2 linked regions of the Homo sapiens genome follow. The protein of the gene in region 1 purifies or fractionates together with the protein of each later gene. This does not show direct contact. Each region holds a gene or a part of one and is shown in the gene's direction. Other genes may lie near its edges.

Region 1 (5,260 bases):
GACCGCATGACGCCAGCCTGGGCAACGTAGAGAGACCTTGTCTCTGACAAAAAGGAAACTGATAAGGATAATCTGAGAAGCACTGATGCTTGGAAAACTGCTGAGCTGTGGGTAAAAGCAGTAAGAATCTGACCTTCTGGCCTGAGAGCTGCTCCCTTTACTGCTTCCACTCTGCACTTGGAAGCACGGAGGTTCCACTGGGACAGGGCAGCTGCAGGACCTGCAGTTTCCTTGCTGCCTTGGAAGGGGTTACTCCGTTTAGAGCAGTGGGCAGTGGCCTTGCCCACCAGCATCCTCAGTGGAGGGAGGAAAAGGCCAAGAGGTCTGCTAGAATGAAGTACAGTGTGGTTGGGAGCAGCTGTGATCCCGCCAAAGACGTGCAGCAGAGACTGGAGAGAGCTCGAGCCGCCACCCACTTGTGACCAGCCCTGAGGATGCAGCTGCGTGAAAGGACCTAGCAGAAAATAGAAGCCGCCACAGATGCGAATGACGCCTGAACGTTCAGTGTGCTCCCTGTCCACACACAGCCGTGGGCCAAGGAAGCCTTACTGTGCTCGAGGTATTTGAGCCCAGCCTTTTTCCAGTGCTGGCTAATTGCTAAGCTGTGCAGCCATGGTGGTGACCCCTAGGAAGCCAAGGTTGAAAATTAAAATAGGCATGTGGGAAGGAACGGGGTGGCCATGAGCTATGAGGGAGATGGATTTCACGGACAACCAGACAGGCCTTGGTGGTAACAACGAAAGGGAAAACTTAGAATCCAGAATTGCTACAAATGTATTATCTAAAATACAAAGAAGTATGACAGTGTGACCCGTACTGAGGAAGAACATCATCAGTAGAAACTGTCTTGAGTGTCCAGATGTTGAATTTAGTAAAGGCTTGGAAACAACTTGTGGATGGAGCAGTAGAAATTATCCATTCTGAAGAACAGAGAGAAAAAAACAAGAAAAATGCACAGAGCCTCAGAAACCCGTGGTACAACATCTGCTGTACCAAAGCACGTCGAATGGGGGTTCCAGGAGAGAGGAAAGATATTTGTTACAATAATGGTTAAAAACTTTCCAAATTTTAATTAAAAAATATGCACATTCAAGAGCACAGGAAGTTTGAACTAGAATAAATGCAAAGTCACATCATAGTCAAACTGGCAAAGGCCAAAGAGAAAATGTTGAAAGGGCTCAGAGAAGAATGACCCATCCCATGAAAGGGGAGCTTCAATACCGCCAGCCACTGACTTCTTAGAAACAATGGAGGCCAGAAGGCAGTGGAGTGGCATACTCAAGCTGCTTAGAGAGAAGAACCATCAGCCAGGAATCAAAACTGTTCTACACAAGTGAAAGGGAACGAACGACATTCCCTGAGAAGCAGAGACTGGTGGGATTCATTGTTGGCGAAACCTGCCTTAAAGGAAATACTAAAGGAAGACCTTCAAGTTGAATAGAAATGACACCAGACGGTAACTTGAATCCTCAGGAAGGAAGGACAGGCACTGCAGATAGCAAGTGTAGGTTGACGTCAATATCCTGTAAATATCTCTCCTCACATCTTAGGTTTTACTGGAACTACGATTGTGTAAAATAATTACACTGTTGTCGTGGTATGTGGCATAAATGGACTGCACAAAGAAGACAGGGAATGAAGCTGTGTTACAACAGTTTTATATTGTACTGGACTTGAGCTAGTATCATGAGGCATATGGTGATCCCTAGAGCAACCACTAAGAAAGTTGTTTTCTTAGTGTTCTAAAAAGTACAAATAAATTAAAATGGTATGCTAAACGTATGTAATTTAAAATCAAAAAGGGAAGAATAAAAAAGACACAACAAAGCAAGGAAAGTAAATCCAACTGTACGTGTAATTATATGACATGTGAAAGGTCTCTGTGCCCCAAACAGACAGGGCAGATTATCAGATAGAAAAACAAGATCTAACTGTATGCTGTCTGCTAGAGAACAGGAAAAGACGCAGCGTACAAACATCAGCTGTCATAGGAGAGCTTGAATGGCTGTACTCATACCAGACAAAACAGATGTTAAGAAATATTAGAAACCAGCCTGGCCAACATGGTGAAACCCTGTCTCTAGTAAAAATACAAAAATCACCTGGGTGTGGTGGTGCACACCTGTAATCCCAGCTACTCGGGAGGCTCAGGTATGAGAATCACTTGAACTCGTGAGATGGAGGTTGCAGTGAGCCGAGATTGCGCCACTGCACTCCAGCCTGGGTGACAAACCAAGACCCTGTCTCAAAAAAAAAAAAAAAGCTAGAAACAAGAAGGAGCAAGGACTTCACAGCCAGAAACAGGCCAATACAGCAGGAAGATACAGCAATGATACATGTGAATGCATCTAACCACAGAGCCCAAAATCCATGAAGCAAACACCGATCGAATGGAAAGAAATGGATCATTTATTAATTAGAATTGGAAATGGCAGCTGGGCACGGTGGCTCGGGCCTGTAAACCCAGCACTTTGAAAAGCGGAGGCAGGCGGATCACGAGGTCAGGAGATTGAGACCATCCTGGCTAACATGGTGAAACCCTCGTCTCTACTAAAAATACAAAAATTAGCTGGGAGTACAGGGCGCACGCCTGTAATCCCAGCTACTCGGGAGGCTGAGGCAGGAGAATCGCTCGAACCCGGGAGGCGGAGGTTGCAGTGAGCCGAGATCGCGCCACCGCACTCCAGCCTGGGGGACAGATGAAGACTCCGTCTCAAAGAAAATAAAATAAAAAAATGAAAAAAAAACTTCACGGATTGAATTACGTAGAAAGCCAGCTTACAAATGTGGACAAAAACGCGATAAGCAAGCTTCTGTTTAGGGGGAATGATGGCGTGTGCCTCTTCAGGGACCGCTTGGAGCAGTTAGAAAGGAAGCGGGAGCGGGAGCGCAAGATGCGGGAGCAGCAGAAGGAGCAGCGGGAGCAGAAGGAGCGCGAGCGGCGGGCGGAGGAGCGGCGCAAGGAGCGGGAGGCCCGCAGGGAAGGTAGGCGGCGCGGTGGGCAGCTGTGCTCGGCGGGACGCGTGTCTGCTGCCCCCTGGTGCTGGGCACTTGCTGTCACAGGCGGGCGCTTGGTTCCGGTGCTTGCTTTTCGCCCCTGCCTTTTTTTTTTTTTTTGGAGGCAGAGTTTTGCTCTTGTCCCCCAGGCTGGAGTGCGGTGGCGCGATCTCGGCTCACTGCACCCTCTGCCCCCCGGGTTCAAGTGATCCTCCTGCCTCAGCCTCCGGAGTAGCAGGGATTACAGGCACCCGCCACCATGTTCAGCTATTTTTTTATATTTTTAGTAGAGACAGGGTTTCACCGTGTTAGCCAGAATAGTCTCTTGATCTCTTGGCCTCGTGATCCACCCACCTCGGCCTCCCACAGTGCTGCGATTACAGGCGTGAGCCACCGCGGCCGGCCAGTACGAGCTTTTATAGTCACCCACGTCCTCACCTTAATGGAGATCTTTATTTCTTCACCCAGCTTCCGGTTTCTGTCTCGCGTCCTTTCCTTACACCCCACACAACTCCCTGGAGCTTATTCTTCAAGGCAGGTCTAGGTCTAGTAGTAATGAACTCCCTCTGCTTTTGTTTATCTGAGAATATCCTCATTTCTCCCTCATCTTTGAAGGAAAGTTTGCTGGATACGTGGTTCTTGGTTGACAATTTTGTTGTTGTTGTTTTGAGACAGAGTCTTCTTCTGTTGCCCAGGCTGGAGTGCAGTGGAGCGATCATAGCTCACTGCAACCTCGAACTCCTGGGCACAAGTGATCTTCCCACCTCAGCCTCCCGCGTAGCTGGGACCTACAGGCGTAGCGTGTGCCACCACACCTGGCTCATTTTTCAGTAGAAACAAGGTGTCCCTGTATTGCCCAGGCTGGTCTTGAATTCCTGGGCTCAAGGAACCCTCATGCCTAGCTGACAGTTTTTCCTTTTCACTTGGACTATTTCAGCCCATTGTCTTCTGGCCTCCAAAGTTTCTGATGAGAAATCTGATGATCTTATAGAGGATCCCTTGGATGCTTTAATCTGATGACCTAATTGAGGATCCCTTGGATGCTTTGAAGATTCTCTTTGCCTTAGGCTTTCAACTGTTTAATAATGGGTTTTCCTGTGGGCCTCTTGACTTCATTCTACCTGGAGTTCACTGAGCCTCTCTAATGTTTATATTTACGGTTTTCATCCAATGTGGGGGTTTTGAGGAATTCTTCAGATACCCTCTCTGCTCCTCTCCTCCCTCCTGGGCTCCCACAGATCTGTTGGGGTCCCCGAGGCCGCTCAGCACTGCTCCCTTTTCTTCAGTCTCTTCTGCTTTCTTTTCCTCAGACGATGTGATTTTATTGTCTTCAGGCTCACCGATTATTTCTTCTGCCTGCTCACATCTGCCTGTGAGTTTCTGTTGTGAATATTTACTTTTTAGTGTCTATTGTGAGCATGTACTTATTAGCTCTGGAATTTCTCTCTGGTTTCTTGTTGGATCTTCTGTCTCTGTTGATATTTCCGTCGTGTTCACGCGTCATTTTCTTGACTTTCTCCACATCTTCCTTTCGTTCTCTGAGGAACTGAAGGTTTAAGACAGTTCCCTAAAATCTTTGTCTGGGACATCTACCGTCAGGTGATTTTCAGGAACCGTGTCTGTTGGCTTCTTTTTTTCCCCTCTGAATGGGACATACTGTCCTGTTTCTTTGTTTCTCTTGTGTTTTTCTTAGTCAAAAAAATGGACATTTGATTCTCATGATGTGATTCTTCCTGGTCCCCACTCAAGGGTGTGCACTTGTTGTTTTGGTTGTGCTGGGCTGTGTCTGTGGGGTCGGCCTGTTGTGGAAACTCAGGGTCTTCACGGGTCTTTTCTGAGCCTGAGCCTTTTCCTGGTCACGTGCAGCCACTTTTTAACGTTCCCGTCAATACAGATGTTTTTAATGTTCTTGTCCTGAAGTGTCTGCCTCCTAAAGGGGGAATAGAGAGAAATGAAGGGGGCAACGGGGGACGTGGTGCTCATGCCCTGGAAGTACCTTCAGCTTGGGGGTGGCCGTGGCTGCTGCCTCTTCATGCCTCTGGGGTGGGACACGCAGTCATCACACTGACCTCGGGTGTGTGTGTCCGTCTGCCCACCTGGGTCCGGCGAGCTGCATGCAGGCTGCTGCCTGCCAGCGGGGAGTGAGGTGGGAGCCACTAATGTGCGAAGCGGTGACGTTGATTAATGAATCACAGTTTACTCTCCAAGATTCCCCCTGAAGTTGCAAACCTTCAGTAGACTCCAGAGCACCTCAGTAGTTGCA
Region 2 (4,785 bases), on another chromosome or scaffold:
TGATTTTTTTCTTTTTTGATGTAAGCACATATATCTATACATTTCTCAGTACTGCTTTTGCTGTATCCCATAGGTTTTGGTATGTGTTTTTTCATTATTTGTTTGAAGAAATTTTTCAATTTCGTTCTTAATTTCTTTACTGATCCAATTTTCATTGAGGAGCGTATTGTTTAATTTACATTTGTTTGTATAGTTTCCAAAATTCTTGTTACTGATTTCTAGTTATATTCCATTGTGGGCAGAGATGTTTGATATTATTTCACTTTTCTGAATGTTTTAAGACTTGTTTTGTAACCTAAAATGTTGTGTATCTGAAAATTATCTATGTGCTGAGAAGAATGTGTGTTCTGTAGCCATTAGATAAAATGTTCTGCAAATATTTATTAGGTATATTTGGTTTATAGCACAGATTAAGTCTGATGTTTCTTTCATGATTTTCTATCTGTAAGATCTGTACAATGCTGAAAGTGGTGTGTTGAAGTCTCAATTATTATTGTATTGGGGCCTCTCTCTTTAGCTCTAATACTCTATGTCTCAGTGCTTTAGTGTAGGGTGCATGGATATTTAAAATTGTTATATTCTCTGACTGAATTGATCCCTTTATCATAAAATGACATTTGTTCTGTCTTCACAGTTTTTATCTTGAAATATATTTTATCTGATGTAAGTATAGCTACTTTGGTTCTTTTTTTTTGTTTTCATTGGCATGGAACATTTTTCCATTCTTTTATTTTTCAGTCTATGTGTATCTTTATAGATGAAGTGTATTTCTTGTGGGCAGCAGATAATTGGGTCTTCCTTTTTCTTTTTTTCACCCATTCTATGTCATCTAATTGGAGTGTTTAGTGCATTTCCATTCAGCATTATTATTGATAAGTATGTGTTCACTCCTGCCATTTTGTTATTTGTTTTTGCATCTTCTCTTTCTTTTGTCCTTCCTTTCTGTCTTCATTTTAGTGAACATGATTTTTCTTGGTGGTATGATTTAATTTCTTGCTTTTTGGTTTCTGTGTCTGTTGTATGTTTTTTTATTTGAGGTTACCATGAAACTTACAAATACTATCTTATAACCTATTGTTTTAACTGCTGACAACTTCACACTGATTGCCTAAGTGAACAAATAAGCAATAAGAAAACTAGTAAAAACTCTACCTTTAACTTTGCTTCCCCATTTTTCAACTTTTTGTTGGTTCTCTTTATGTCTTATTGTACTGTCTTTGTCTTGAAACATTGTTGTAGTTGTATTGAGTCATCATTGAGTATTTCTACTTGAGTATTTTACACACCACAGTTACCATATTATAATACTCAGTTTTTCTCTGTGCTATTACCAATGAGTTCTGTACCTTCAGATGACTTCTTATTGTTCATTAACATTCTTTTCTTACAGATGGAAGAGAATGCCCCTTAGTATTACTTGTAGGACAGGTCTGGTTTTAATGAAATCTCTCAGTGTTTGTCTGGGAAGGTCATTTTTTTCTCCTTCATGGCTATGGAATATTTTCACGGGATAGACTATTCTAGTGTAAAAGCTTTGCTACTTCAGCACTTTAAATATGTCATGCTATTCTCTCCTGGCCTGTAAGATTTCCACTGAAAATCTGCTGCCAGACGTACTGGAGTTTCATTGTATGCTGTTTCTTTTTTCTTGCTGCTTTTAGGATCCTTTATTCTTAATTTTTGGGAGTTTGATTATTAAATGTCTTGAGGTAGTCGTCTTTGGGTTCAATCTGCTTTGTGTTCTGTAACCTGGTTGTACTTGGATATTGATATCTTTATAGATTTGGGAAGTTCTCTGATCGTATTCTTGAAACTTTCTACCCCTGTCTCTTTCTCTCTTTAAGGCTAACAACTCTTAGATTTGCCCTTTTCAGGGTGTTTTCTAAATCTTGTAGGCATACTTCATTCTTTTTTGTCTTCTCTACATATTTTCAAATTGCCTATGTTCAAGCTCAATAATTTTTTCTTTTGCCTGATCAGTTTTGCTATTAAGAGACTGATGCATTCTTCAGTATGCCAATTGCTTTTTTAACTTCAATTTCTGCTTGATTCCTTTTAATTATTTCAACCTCTTTGTTTGATTTATCTGATAGAATCTGAATTCCTTCTCTATTTTATCTTGAATTTGTTTCCTCAACACAACTATGTTGAATCATCTGTCTGAAAAGTTACTTATTTTGTTTCTCCAGGATTGGCCTCTTATGCCTTATTCAGTTTGTTAGGTGAGGCCATATTTTACTGGATGGTCTTAATGTGTAGATGTTCATCTGTGTCTTGGCATTGAAGAGTTAGGCATTTATTGTAGCCTTCGCAGTCTGGGCTTTGTGTCCACCCTTGTTGGGAAGGCTTTCCAGAATTTGAAGGTACTTGGATCTCAAACTCAATAACGTTGTTCTTGCAGACTCATAGAGGTACCATGTGGTTGGTCTTGGTTAAAATCGATGAATTATCTGGATTACCAAGCAGAGACTCTTGTTCTCTTCCCTTAGTTTCTTCCAGACGAATGGAATTTCTTTCTCTATGCTGAGCTACCTGGAGCTGGGGTGGGATGACATAAGCTTCCCTGTTGCCCCCACCACTGGGACTGTGCTAATTTAGACTTGAAGTGAGCACAGCACTGGGTGTCACCCAAGGCCCAGTGTAATTACTGCCTGGCTACCACCTAAGTTTACTCAAGACCTTAGGCCTCTACAATCAGCAGGTGGTAACCAGCCAGGTTTGTGTCTCCTCAGGGCAGTGAGTTCCCTTTGGCCCCAGGTAGGTTCAGAGATATTGTGTGGGAGCCAGGTATTGAAGTCAGAAGCCTTATTTATCTCGTGTTCTATTCTACTGCAGCTAAGCTGGCATTCAAATTACAAGACAACATCCTTACCACTCCTCCCTCCCCTTTCTGCAGGCAGAGGAGCCTCACAATGTGTCTGCCACCACCACCAGCCCACAGGGGTTTCCACTGGGCTATCACTGATGTTCACTCAACACCCAAGCACTCTTCAGTCAGCTTATGATGACTGCTTCCACAACTGGGACTTACTCTTTGGTGCAGGGCAGGTCCAGAAATGCTGACTCAGGGACCCTAAGAGTCTGCTTGGTGCTCTACCCCACTGTGGCCAAGCTGGTACCTCAGGTGCAAGACAGAATCCCATTTACTTTTTCCTCTGCTTTGCTCAAACAGAAGGTGTCTTTCACTATACCCACCACAGTGGGAAATGTTCTGGGTCACACCTGAAGCCAGCACATCTCGGAGTCCAATGTTCATGATGTGTTATTGGGGTACCACTGTAGGTTATTCAGAGACCAGCAGCTCCTAAGTCAGAAGGTGATGAATCCTGCCAGGTCTCTGCTGTGATAGGGCAGCACTGGGTTCATTGTAGTCCCCTAGTCACTGTGCTCTCCGTCTCCCAAATGAACAGATTTCTCCCCGCCATGCAGATGCTGCTGAGGGGCAAGGGCAAGGTGGCACAAGCACTCCCTTTCCTTCACTGTTGGTGTCTTAGTAGTTCACGTGCCACTTTATTGTAGTAAAGTTTGTATATCAATTGAGAAAACACGGCCTCAGGTTTTTCACTCAACTGTTGTTGTATTCTCAACTTAGCATAATTTTGTATATTAGATTTGTAAAATATATGTACCTGAATATAGTAATTGGAATTCTTAAAATTTTTATATCTTTCAGATGTGTTTTCGCATTATAACAAGGACCTGTTGACAGAGCACTGCACAGAAGCTTCATTCCAAAAAGTGATATCGAGGAGACATGGGAGCTGTGATCTTGAGAATTTACATTTAAGAAAAAGGTGGAAAAGGGAGGAGTGTGAAGGGCACAATGGATGTTATGATGAAAAGACTTTTAAATATGATCAATTTGATGAATCCTCTGTTGAAAGTTTGTTTCACCAGCAAATACTTTCTTCTTGTGCCAAAAGCTATAACTTTGATCAATATAGGAAGGTCTTTACTCATTCATCATTGCTTAATCAACAAGAGGAAATAGATATTTGGGGAAAACATCACATATATGATAAAACTTCAGTGTTATTTAGGCAGGTCTCTACTCTAAATAGTTACCGAAATGTTTTTATTGGAGAGAAAAATTATCATTGCAATAATTCTGAAAAAACCTTGAACCAAAGCTCAAGCCCTAAAAATCATCAGGAAAATTATTTTCTAGAAAAACAATACAAATGTAAAGAATTTGAGGAAGTCTTTCTTCAGAGTATGCATGGGCAAGAGAAACAAGAACAGTCTTACAAATGTAATAAATGTGTAGAAGTTTGTACCCAGTCATTAAAACATATTCAACATCAGACCATCCATATCAGAGAAAACTCATATAGCTATAACAAATATGATAAAGATCTTAGTCAGTCATCAAATCTTAGAAAGCAGATAATCCATAATGAAGAGAAACCATACAAATGTGAAAAATGTGGGGATAGCTTAAACCATAGTTTGCACCTTACTCAACATCAGATCATTCCTACCGAAGAGAAACCCTGTAAATGGAAAGAATGTGGCAAGGTCTTTAACCTTAACTGTAGTTTATACCTTACTAAACAGCAGCAAATTGATACTGGAGAAAACCTTTACAAATGTAAAGCATGTAGCAAATCTTTTACTCGTTCCTCCAATCTTATTGTGCATCAGAGAATTCACACTGGAGAGAAACCATACAAATGTAAAGAATGTGGCAAAGCCTTTCGCTGTAGTTCATACCTTACTAAACATAAGCGAATTCATACTGGAGAGAAACCTTATAAATGTAAAGAATGTGGAAAAGCTTTTAAC

Evidence for each region. Proteins that work in one complex are often made in the same cells at the same time.
Region 2: the proteins of CDK11A (region 1) and ZNF267 purify together in Homo sapiens (affinity purification with mass spectrometry; one large-scale study listed by BioGRID and IntAct). This does not show direct contact.

The regions. Positions count from the first base shown.
Region 1 is NC_000001.11:1,709,989-1,715,248, reverse strand, and holds part of CDK11A (cyclin-dependent kinase 11A), read left to right. Parts: intron 1-2,821; coding exon of another isoform or gene 2,822-2,848; coding exon 2,849-2,985; intron 2,986-5,260. UniProt on the Homo sapiens protein: Appears to play multiple roles in cell cycle progression, cytokinesis and apoptosis. The p110 isoforms have been suggested to be involved in pre-mRNA splicing, potentially by phosphorylating the splicing protein SFRS7.
Region 2 is NC_000016.10:31,910,803-31,915,587, forward strand, and holds part of ZNF267 (zinc finger protein 267), read left to right. Parts: intron 1-3,673; coding exon 3,674-4,785. UniProt on the Homo sapiens protein: May be involved in transcriptional regulation.